3 linked regions of the Homo sapiens genome follow. The protein of the gene in region 2 purifies or fractionates together with the protein of the main gene of each other region. This does not show direct contact. Each region holds a gene or a part of one and is shown on either strand. Other genes may lie near its edges.

Evidence for each region. Proteins that work in one complex are often made in the same cells at the same time.
Region 1: the proteins of STUM (region 2) and SLC44A2 purify together in Homo sapiens (affinity purification with mass spectrometry; one large-scale study listed by BioGRID and IntAct). This does not show direct contact.
Region 3: the proteins of STUM (region 2) and TMEM245 purify together in Homo sapiens (affinity purification with mass spectrometry; one large-scale study listed by BioGRID and IntAct). This does not show direct contact.

The regions. Positions count from the first base shown.
Region 1 is NC_000019.10:10,628,553-10,632,052, reverse strand, and holds part of SLC44A2 (choline transporter-like protein 2), read right to left. Parts: intron 997-3,500; coding exon 912-996; intron 779-911; coding exon 668-778; intron 579-667; coding exon 518-578; intron 428-517; coding exon 304-427; intron 186-303; coding exon 102-185; intron 10-101; coding exon 1-9.
Region 2 is NC_000001.11:226,604,264-226,607,763, reverse strand, and holds part of STUM (protein stum homolog), read right to left. Parts: 3' UTR 1-3,500.
Region 3 is NC_000009.12:109,016,792-109,018,947, forward strand, and holds part of TMEM245 (transmembrane protein 245), read right to left. Parts: 3' UTR 1-2,156.

The DNA.
Region 1 (3,500 bases), on a different chromosome or scaffold from region 2:
ACCAGGCCTCTGGGGAAAAGAAAACGGTCATGAACAGACTCCACCCTCAGCCAGGCTTAGAGGGGGCAGCCAGGGGAGAGGCCCCTTCCCTCCTGACTTACATGATAATCCAGTACCAAGAGACGGTGTAATCTTCAAATATGCGCATGGCGAGTTGCCGCGCCTCTAGGACTCCATTGGCTTTCCTGGGGGAAGGAGGACAAGGCTCGGGTCAGACCCTCTTCCATGATCAGGCCAACCACAGGGGATTGCCTGTCCCACCCAGCAAAGTGAGACCCTGGCGCGGTGCGCCAATATCCTCACTTGGCGCCCTCCACCAGGTCTGTGATGTTTTTCCGGGAGCCATGCCCATCCTCATAGGTCGTCTCATTGCCCACCATCAGGACACCCTTGTAGGCGTGGATAGCGGGGAAGCATCTCCGGGCCACTGCATGGAGCAGAGGATGGCACCAGTCAGGCTGAGCCTCTGCAGAGCCTCCCCGTCACCACCTGAGCCTCCTGGGATCCCCTGACTCACAGGGTTTGCTGGGGATGAGGACAGCAGGGCAGTCACCATCTTGAAGCACCTCAGCCACTCCCTGCCAAGAGAGATGGAGGGAGGTGAGTCCCCAAGTCTAGTACACTGCCACTGCCCATACCTGTGCTCTCAGGACAGTCTACAACTCACTTTATTGTTCTTGAAGCCAGGAACACAGAACTGCTTATAGTACTCAAAGTCCCGGGAGCTGCGAGCATTCAGGTACGTGAGGTAGCGGTCGGGGCATTTTTCCACGCAGATCTGGGAGGGGAGAAGGAAGGGATTGGGTGGAGTTGGGGCAGACTGCTCAGGACTGAGGTCGCAGCCCACATTCACAGGGGGAAAAGGATGGGAAGCGGGGAGAGGAAAAAGGGAACGGTGGGGACCAGGTTACCTGGGGAGTGGGACATTGGAATTCCAGCAGAACCAGGGGGCTGGCACATTTCACAATGTTGAAATAAAACAGATAGGGTTTGTTCCTGGAGTTAGAGAAGGGAGAATGGAAACTGTTAAGATTTTTTTTTTTTTTTGAGACAGAGTCTCGCTCTTGTTGCCCAGGATGGAGTGCAATGGTGTGATCTCGGCTCACTGCAACCTCCGCCTCCCGGGTTCAAGCAATTCTCCTGCCTCAGCCTCCCGAGTAGCTGGGATTACAGGTGCCCGCTACCAAGCCCGGCTAATTTTTGTATTTTTAGTAGAGATGGGGTTTCCACCATGTTGGCCAGGCTGGTCTCAAACTCCTGACCTCAGGTGATCCGCCTGCCTTGGCCTCCCAAAGTGTTGGTATTACAGGTGTAAGCCACCACACCCGACCTGTTAAGACTTCTTAACCACCCTATAGAAAACTTTTTTTATTTTTCTCTTTTTTTTTTTTTTAGATGGAGTCCTGCTCTGTTGCCTAGGCTGGAGTGCAATGGTGTGATGTGGGCTCACTACAACCTCCGCCTCCTGGGTTCAAGCAATTCTCCTGCCTCAGCCTCCCGAGTAGCTGGGACTACAGGTAGGTGCCCGCCACGATGCCCAGCTAATTTTTGTATTTTTAGTGGAGACGGGGTTTTGCCATGTTGGCCACACTGGTCTCGAACTCCTGACCTCAGGTGATCCACCCGCCTCAGCCTCCCAAAGTGTTGGGATTATATGCGTGAGCCACTGCGCCCGGCCTCTTTTGTTTTTTTTTCTTTTTTGAGACAAGAGTCTTTCTCTGTTGCCCAGACAGAGCGAGCAGTGGCACAATCTTGGCTCACTGCAGCCTCTACCTCCTAGGATCAAGTGATCCTCCACCTCATCCTCCTGAGCAGCTGAGACTACGGGTGTGCGCAACCACACCTGGCTAATTTTTTCTATTATTGGTAGCGACAGAATTTCACCATGTTGCCCAGGCTGGTGTCAAGCAATCCTCCAGTCTGGGCCTCCCTAAGTACTGGGATTACAGGCGTGAGCCACCGTGCCCGGCCTATTGTTTCCTTTAAGATATTTTATATGGCCGGGTGCAGTAACTCACACCTGTAATCCCAGCACTTTTGGAGGCCAAGGCAGGCGGATCACCTGAGGTCAGGAGTTCGAGACCAGCCTGGCCAACGTGGCGAAACCCCGTCTGTACTAAAAATACAAAAAATTAGCTGGGTGTGGTGGCGGGCACCTGTAATCCCAGCTACTTAGGAGGCTGAGGCAGGAGAATTGCTTGAACCTGGGTGGCGGAGGTTGCAGTGAGCCAAGATCGCACCATTGCACTCCAGCCTGGGCGACAGAGCGAGACTCTGTCTCAAAAAAAAAAAAAGATATCTTATATAGGGCCAGGCAGGGTGGCTCAGGCCTGTCTTGTGCCAGCACTTTGGAAGGCCCAGGTGGGAAGATCGCTTAAGCCCAGGAGTTCCAGGCTGTAGCGAGCTATGATCCTGCCACTGGCTGACAGAGTGAGACACTGTGTCAAAATAATAATAATAGTAATAATAATAATAGGCCGGGTGTGGTGGCTCACACCCGTAATACCAGCAGTTTGGGAAGCCAAGGCAGGCAGATAACCTGAGGTCAGGAGTTCGAGACCAGCCTGACCAATATGATGAAACCCCGTCTCTACTAAAAATACAAAAATTAGCTGGGCATGGTGGCATATGCCTGTAATCCCAGCAACTCGGGAGGCTGAGGCAGGAGAACCGCTTGAACCCGGGAGACGGAGGTTGCAGTGGGCTGAGATTGTGCCACTGCACTCTAGCCTGGGTAACAAGAGCAAAATTCCGTTTCAAAATAATAATAGTAATAATAATAATAATAATAGTTTAAAAACTGCAGCATCAGCAACTCTATGCCAGGTGCCATTCTTTTTTTTTTTTTTGAGATGGAGTCTTGCTCTGTTGCCTAGGCTGGAGTGCAGTGGCACGATCTCGGCTCATTGCAACCTCTGCCTCCCAGGTTCAAGCAATTCTCCTGCCTCAGCCTCCTGAGTAACCGGGATTACAGGAACATGCCACAATGCCCAGCTAATTTTTTTGTATTTTTAGTAGAGACGGGGTTTCACCATGTTGACTAGGCTGGTCTTGATCCTCCCACCTCAGCCTCCCAAAGTGTGCTGGGATTACAGGTGTGAGCCACCACGCCCAGCGATGCCAGGTGGCATTCTAAGCTCTGTACATGTATTGGCACATCTAACCATCAAAATAGCCCCATGAGGGTGGGACTGTTATGATCCTCATTTTAGAGATGAGGAAAACGAGGTTCAGAGAGATTGAGACACCTGCCCTAGGTCACAGAGCCAGGAAGTGACGCCACTCAGGCTATGCTTGCTCTGTTGTCTCACCTGTTCATCACCACCTGACGCGTAATCCAGGACTGTCCCCTCTCAGTCTCTCCCGCCCTTAAAATGTGTGCTGCCAGAGAACAGGATGCTTACTATCTCATTTAGAGCTGTGTGTCCCCAAGGACTAGACTAGTGGCTGAGGGTAGTGGGACGTTTATCAGTACTTGTTTTCTTTTCTTGTTGTTTTGT
Region 2 (3,500 bases):
GGGAGAGGGTTTGAGGGCCGAGTTTCCCTAGCTAAATGCAAATCCAGATGACTTGCACTGGAAACTCAGGACACACACATGGTGGACGCTACAGGGCACCTTTCTGCCCTCTGCGGTAGCATCAGGAGGGGAGAGTGGAATTGGGGGCCAGTGTTTCTGTTCTGCTAGAAAGAATCTTGCCAGCTGCAGCGAGGAGGTGAGGCCTGGGCAGGAGCGGACAGCCCTTGCCCGGATGGGGCTGGGCCTCCAAGCCCTTGGCTCTGACAGAAATGGGGAAACGATGGCTGCCTAAGCCCTTCTTTGTTCCTAACCTATAGATGGTTAAACTGAGGCGAGAGGCAGTCGGAGAGACGCCGGCAGTCATAACAGCACTCAGGCCGGAACTCACTCTTGGGCCACAAGGGAACGTTTGGGGAAGAATCCCTCTGGTTGGGATTCTTCCTATCTCTGCAGGGCCTGGGATTGAGGGTGGTGCATGACTGTCTGAGCGTGACCACCTCCATGCCCCATGATCCCGTGAACATCCAGCTCTAAGAATCTTGCAGGAAGAAAACTGATTGATGAAAAACACAGGCCCCTGAGCCTTGCACCCACCTGCTCAGGCTGAGCTTTTTTGTGATTATTTTAAAGATCCAAGCTGGTCAGAAGGACCACAGTCACCTCCCCTGACCAGGCTGGCGCCTCATCCCCAAACCCAGTGCACAGAGCTCTCAGGAGGGAGAAGGGGCAGTGCAGTCCTTGAAGAGTGTGTCCCCACGCCTGCCTCTGCTCACCTTGCAGCTTCACCTGCAGAGGCTGGAACAGCAGGAGTGTGGAGGTGACGGCATCATTTCCAAGCACAGGACTGCTGGGCCCACGTTAGCTCTCGATGAGCTTGCTGATGAGTTAATGCAAAGCAGGGAGGTGTCCCCCTGGTGAGGACTGCCCGAGGCCACTACCTGGCTGCTCATTGAGCCCTCTGGAGAGGAAACTCTGTTTTTCCTCAGCCTGAGGCCCGGCTTCTTTCCTGGGAGGGTTGACAGCAAAGGCTTCAGGCTGCTCCCTAAGCCTGAGGCCTCCAGCCACATACAAGGTCATGGTCTCTGGGAAGCTTAGGTGCCGCTCGGGTGCAGGGGGTGGGGTGTGCTTTAAAAGTGCTCTCCCACCTCCAATCTCTCTGATAAAAGCCCTCCAGCAAAGCCAGCAAGAGGGAGGGATAACAGTAAACTCTGCCTTCAGCCACTATTGGAGAACTTCCATTTAAATGACACGCCCCCAAGCATTTATGCAATGCTCAGGGCTTTCTTTGCAAAATTCACTAACACCATAAGAAACAGCCAATGCAATTAAAGCCTAAGGTGGGCCTGGGAGCCTAGAAGGGACCCTGAGGAGGCCTGGCTCTCCACCCTCAAGCCTAGGGGTTGGATCTGGCAAAACTGAAGTGAATTCTCAGAATTGCAGGCATCTGGGCAGGGAAGGGGTTAGCTAAAGAACATGTTTCAGGGTTTTTGGCTTTGTGGGTGTTTTGTATTTTAAAGAGCCACGCTGGTGCAGAAAGACCAGGGCCCTATCAGCTTCCCCTCCTCAAGAACCTCGGGCCTTCGGAAGGCCTTTGACCCGGTCCTGGGGTTTCAGACCCACTTTGTGCTGCCTTACACTTGGTGTTGGGATCTGTGCCTGGCTTTTCTTTTTGAGAGCCGGACCCCTTTGCCCTCCAGGGGAAAAGTTAACCATGTGGCTTTTTTTCTTTCTGCAGTTCCTTTCTGTAGCATCCTCCTTACTGCTTCCGAGCCCTGGGCATCCTGCATGAGGCGGAGTTCATCTCACACCTCTGAGATGCCTGTGCCAGCATGGCTGGAGCCCCTGGCTGGCAGAGCGGGCAACTTGGTCCTGCACATTAGGATGGGGAAGCTCCTAATACCAGCTGTCTCTCTGCCGCCATCCCCCAACACCCTCAGGAAGGGGCACCTTTCTGGGCCTGCCTAAAGGAGGGAGCATGGGTGTGAGGGCTGCCCAGGCAGGTGGGAGTACGGAGCCTTGTGGGGCAGGGTGGAGGCGTCCAGGACCTTCCTAGGAGGTTTTGCCCAACTCCCCCTAAGTGATGACAGGTCTCAGGAGGGGGCCGCCCCCACATATGGGAGGGAGAAGCTTATTTTCCCAGCTTGGGGTGGGGGCGGCTGCTGAGGGGATGGAGAAGAGATGGTAATTTATGTTGCATGTTTAGTGACACAATCCAGACACAGGTGGGATTGTATCACTAAACATGTGACATAATCACCCTATTACTCCTGAGGGGTGAGGACCCCTCCACAGGACCTGCTCTGGGCTGCATGCGATTCTGCTCCTTCTTCTGGGAGTGCTGTAGTGAGTGTGTGGACGGCACAGGCTGTGGGGGCGGCCCAACCTGGCCACTTGCCTGTCCTGCCACTTAGGAGCTGAGTGTTTGGGGGCACATGACTTACTCTCTCGGAGCTTCTCCTCTGACATCTGAAACTCACAAAGGCATCTCCCCTCCCAGGAGCTAAAATGCCCTGCACTGTGCCTGGGTGAGGCTGCTCTTGGGGCTGGATGTGTGGGTCTGGGGCAGCTGAGGGTGGGAACCATGCTGCCTGCCCCTTCCTTACCATGGGAAGGTCAGCGGCGTGGCAGGCTGGGGTAGGCTCTGGCAGCAGAGCCATCAGACTCCTGCCGCTCCCATGGGGACCTGGCCTTCTCAGCCTGAGATCCTTGGTTCTGAAACTGACTCAGAGCTCAACATCCAAATCAACAGTCTCCGCCGTCCACAGGACACACCCAGGCCACCCACAGCTCACTCTGGCTCTAGGGTCCCACTCTGACCCAAGGGAATGACCACCCTGATCCCAGTGTCACAGTTTGGTACTGGGAGCATCTCATTGCCTCTGACTTTCTCTGCAAGCCTGTAATTCCTGCCCTAAACACCCACAGCCAGGGAATGTCCTATTGAATTCCGACCGACAAAAGGCCCCAACCTGGAATGTGCCCTGCAGCCTCTGAACCAACAGCCTTGTCTGCACTATGCAGGCAAAGCCCAGCTTTGTCACCAAAGGGCTGTGTGTCAACCATGCACTTGCCTGCACGAGAACCCTAATTTTCAGCTGGCTGGTGTTTGAGAAGTTAACTCTGGCCCTGGTCTGAGTGGCCAGCTGGAACTATTTGGAGTAAATCAGCCACTGTCCCTTATCTACTGAAGATGATCATGCTGAGACCACGGTCTAATTTAGAGGGGCGGGGGCGCTATTTTGAACCGGTCCCGCCCACATGGCAACCCTCACAGCCTCATTCAGGAGACAGGCAGGGGCCTCTTGGCTTCTCCCACACATCAGTTACCCGGAAAGGGGCCTCCTCCTGAGGCTGATGTTTTCCCAGGTTTAGAGACGCAGCCCTCGGGGGAGAGGAGGATCTGGGGGCGCAGTGGCCCTCCACACACACAAACACACAAACCCCTGTATTAAACCATCCCACACGGGACCCAGGGTGACACCTGCCACTCAAGAAAGTCC
Region 3 (2,156 bases), on a different chromosome or scaffold from region 2:
AAGTAATGCTAGCCAGAGGCTATTTCCACTGTGAAATGCACACTCAAAGTCCTATTGTAATATTATTTTAAGGGTCTTAGGAGGCCCCTCAGAGGAGACTGCAAGGTCAGGGCTAGAGTATGAGAAGTCCTAAGGGTTTTTGTATTTTGTTTTTTTTTCCTATAAACCCTGAGGTTGAAAGCTCTGGATAGCTCACCTAAATTACTTTCCTCTAATCTAACCCCTCACAGCCTGAATTTCTGAGTATTGCTTGACCAGTAGTGACACATTCCTGAGGCACTAATATAACCCAAATGGAAACTACAGGTCCTAGGAAATCCAGATAGGTCACAATGGGTTCATGTGAAGATCAAGGTGAGCCAGAAGATCTCATCTGCAAGCCATTTAGCAGCCCTTTAACTGTAAAAAGCAGTTCCACTTTCAAAGGCTACAGAGTTTGTTTACATACAAGGTCTCCATGTAACATGTTGGATTTCTTCCCACTGTCATGGGCCAACCCACACTAGACTCAGAAGTCAAGGGAAAGCTCTGCCAGCTAAACACTTCTTATCAAAGAGGGTGTGAAGAAACCTTGCAATTTTAACAATAACTAAGACCAGCATGTAAGGTGGTCTTACAGAGATCACTTGCAGGAACAGATATTGATAGGAACTTCAGAACTCAAACAGCACTCACATAACATGGAATTTATGCTGAAAATCCCATGCCTTCTCTCTCAGAAAAGAGAGGAGCATACCTGTGTGGAGAGCTTGTATTTTCTCCCCTCCCATCCATTCGGTTTACAACTGAATAGCGAATGTGAACTTGAAACTAATCTTTAATAAATCTATAAAATGCAAGATATTATGACCAAGTTCTGTACTCCGTTTTTACTGAAATGACTTCTACTTCATCAACGTACGGTCTGTTCCTGAAGAAACTTCCTCTTTCTGGGTCAAATTCTGACTGAGAATGTAAAGGTAGGTTATCTTTGAGACTTGAGCTTAAAACTCCTACCTTTTCATACCACTTGATCTCTGTTGCCCTGTGAAAATTCTGTAAACCTTCCTCATTGCATCTGAGGAATCATGCTGGAATGCTTCTTTCTGGCTCGGAGGGTTCCAAGACCTCCCCAGCTAGTGGACCTTCCTAGTCCTTATGCCGTTGCTGTAGCAATGGGGCAGGTCAAGTTTCCTGATCATAGCTGTGAAGCACTCTGGGGCACCTCTGCTCCTGGTATTTCAGGGTGATATTACATCACTGCTGCTAATTTTGGTAGCTCTAAAGTATTCTCTTAAAGACCTCTAAGAACCTGATATTTATGCTAATAATTACCCAGCAAGAAACATTAGCTGTAGTTTTTTGCAATATCACTTTATACAGCTAAAATCACTTTGTATATGTATAGTAACTCATTGTATATATTTGTCTCTTATGAATATGTGCTAATTACATCTATAAATCAACCAGTATATAATTAACAAAAACAAATGATTTTTTAGCCTTTTAATGCAAAAAATTTAAATTTAGTATTACATATGATCTGGCTAAGAGCAAGAGGCCTTCTTATGAGTGATCTCCATCACCCTGTACAGTGCCTGGCACAGAATCTAGAGTTTAGCCAACTCTCAACAAATGTTTTAGTGAATGAATGAATGATTGACTAAAGAAAAACATGAGTTACTTAGTGACCAAATCTAATACTCAGTGGAATAGCTGATTATAATCGCTAAAATATTCATAATAGAAATAAAGAGATCTGTATGCAGTCTACTCCATATAGTCAAAAGATCTCATGGTAGCCTTTTCTAAATGAAATTTTTCTTAAGTAGTGTAAGAATAAATTTAAACTAATTATAATTATCAGTGACTTCTTAGGGAGATGTTTTAGGAAAAATTATTAATATTTCTACCTTTAAATACTTTCCAAAAAGGAAATCTTCAACGCTTAAGAACTACCCCCCAACACTTTTTTTTTTCCTTGGGACAGTGTCTCACTCTCTCACCCAGGCTGGAGTGCAGTGGCGCCATCTTGGCTCACTGCAGCCTCGACCTCCTGGACTCAGGTGATCCTCATACATCAGCCTCCTGAGTAGCTCAGACTATAGCCACACCACCGTGCCCAGCTAATTTTTTTTTTTTTTTTTTTTTTTTTGTAGAGATGGGGTTTTGCCATG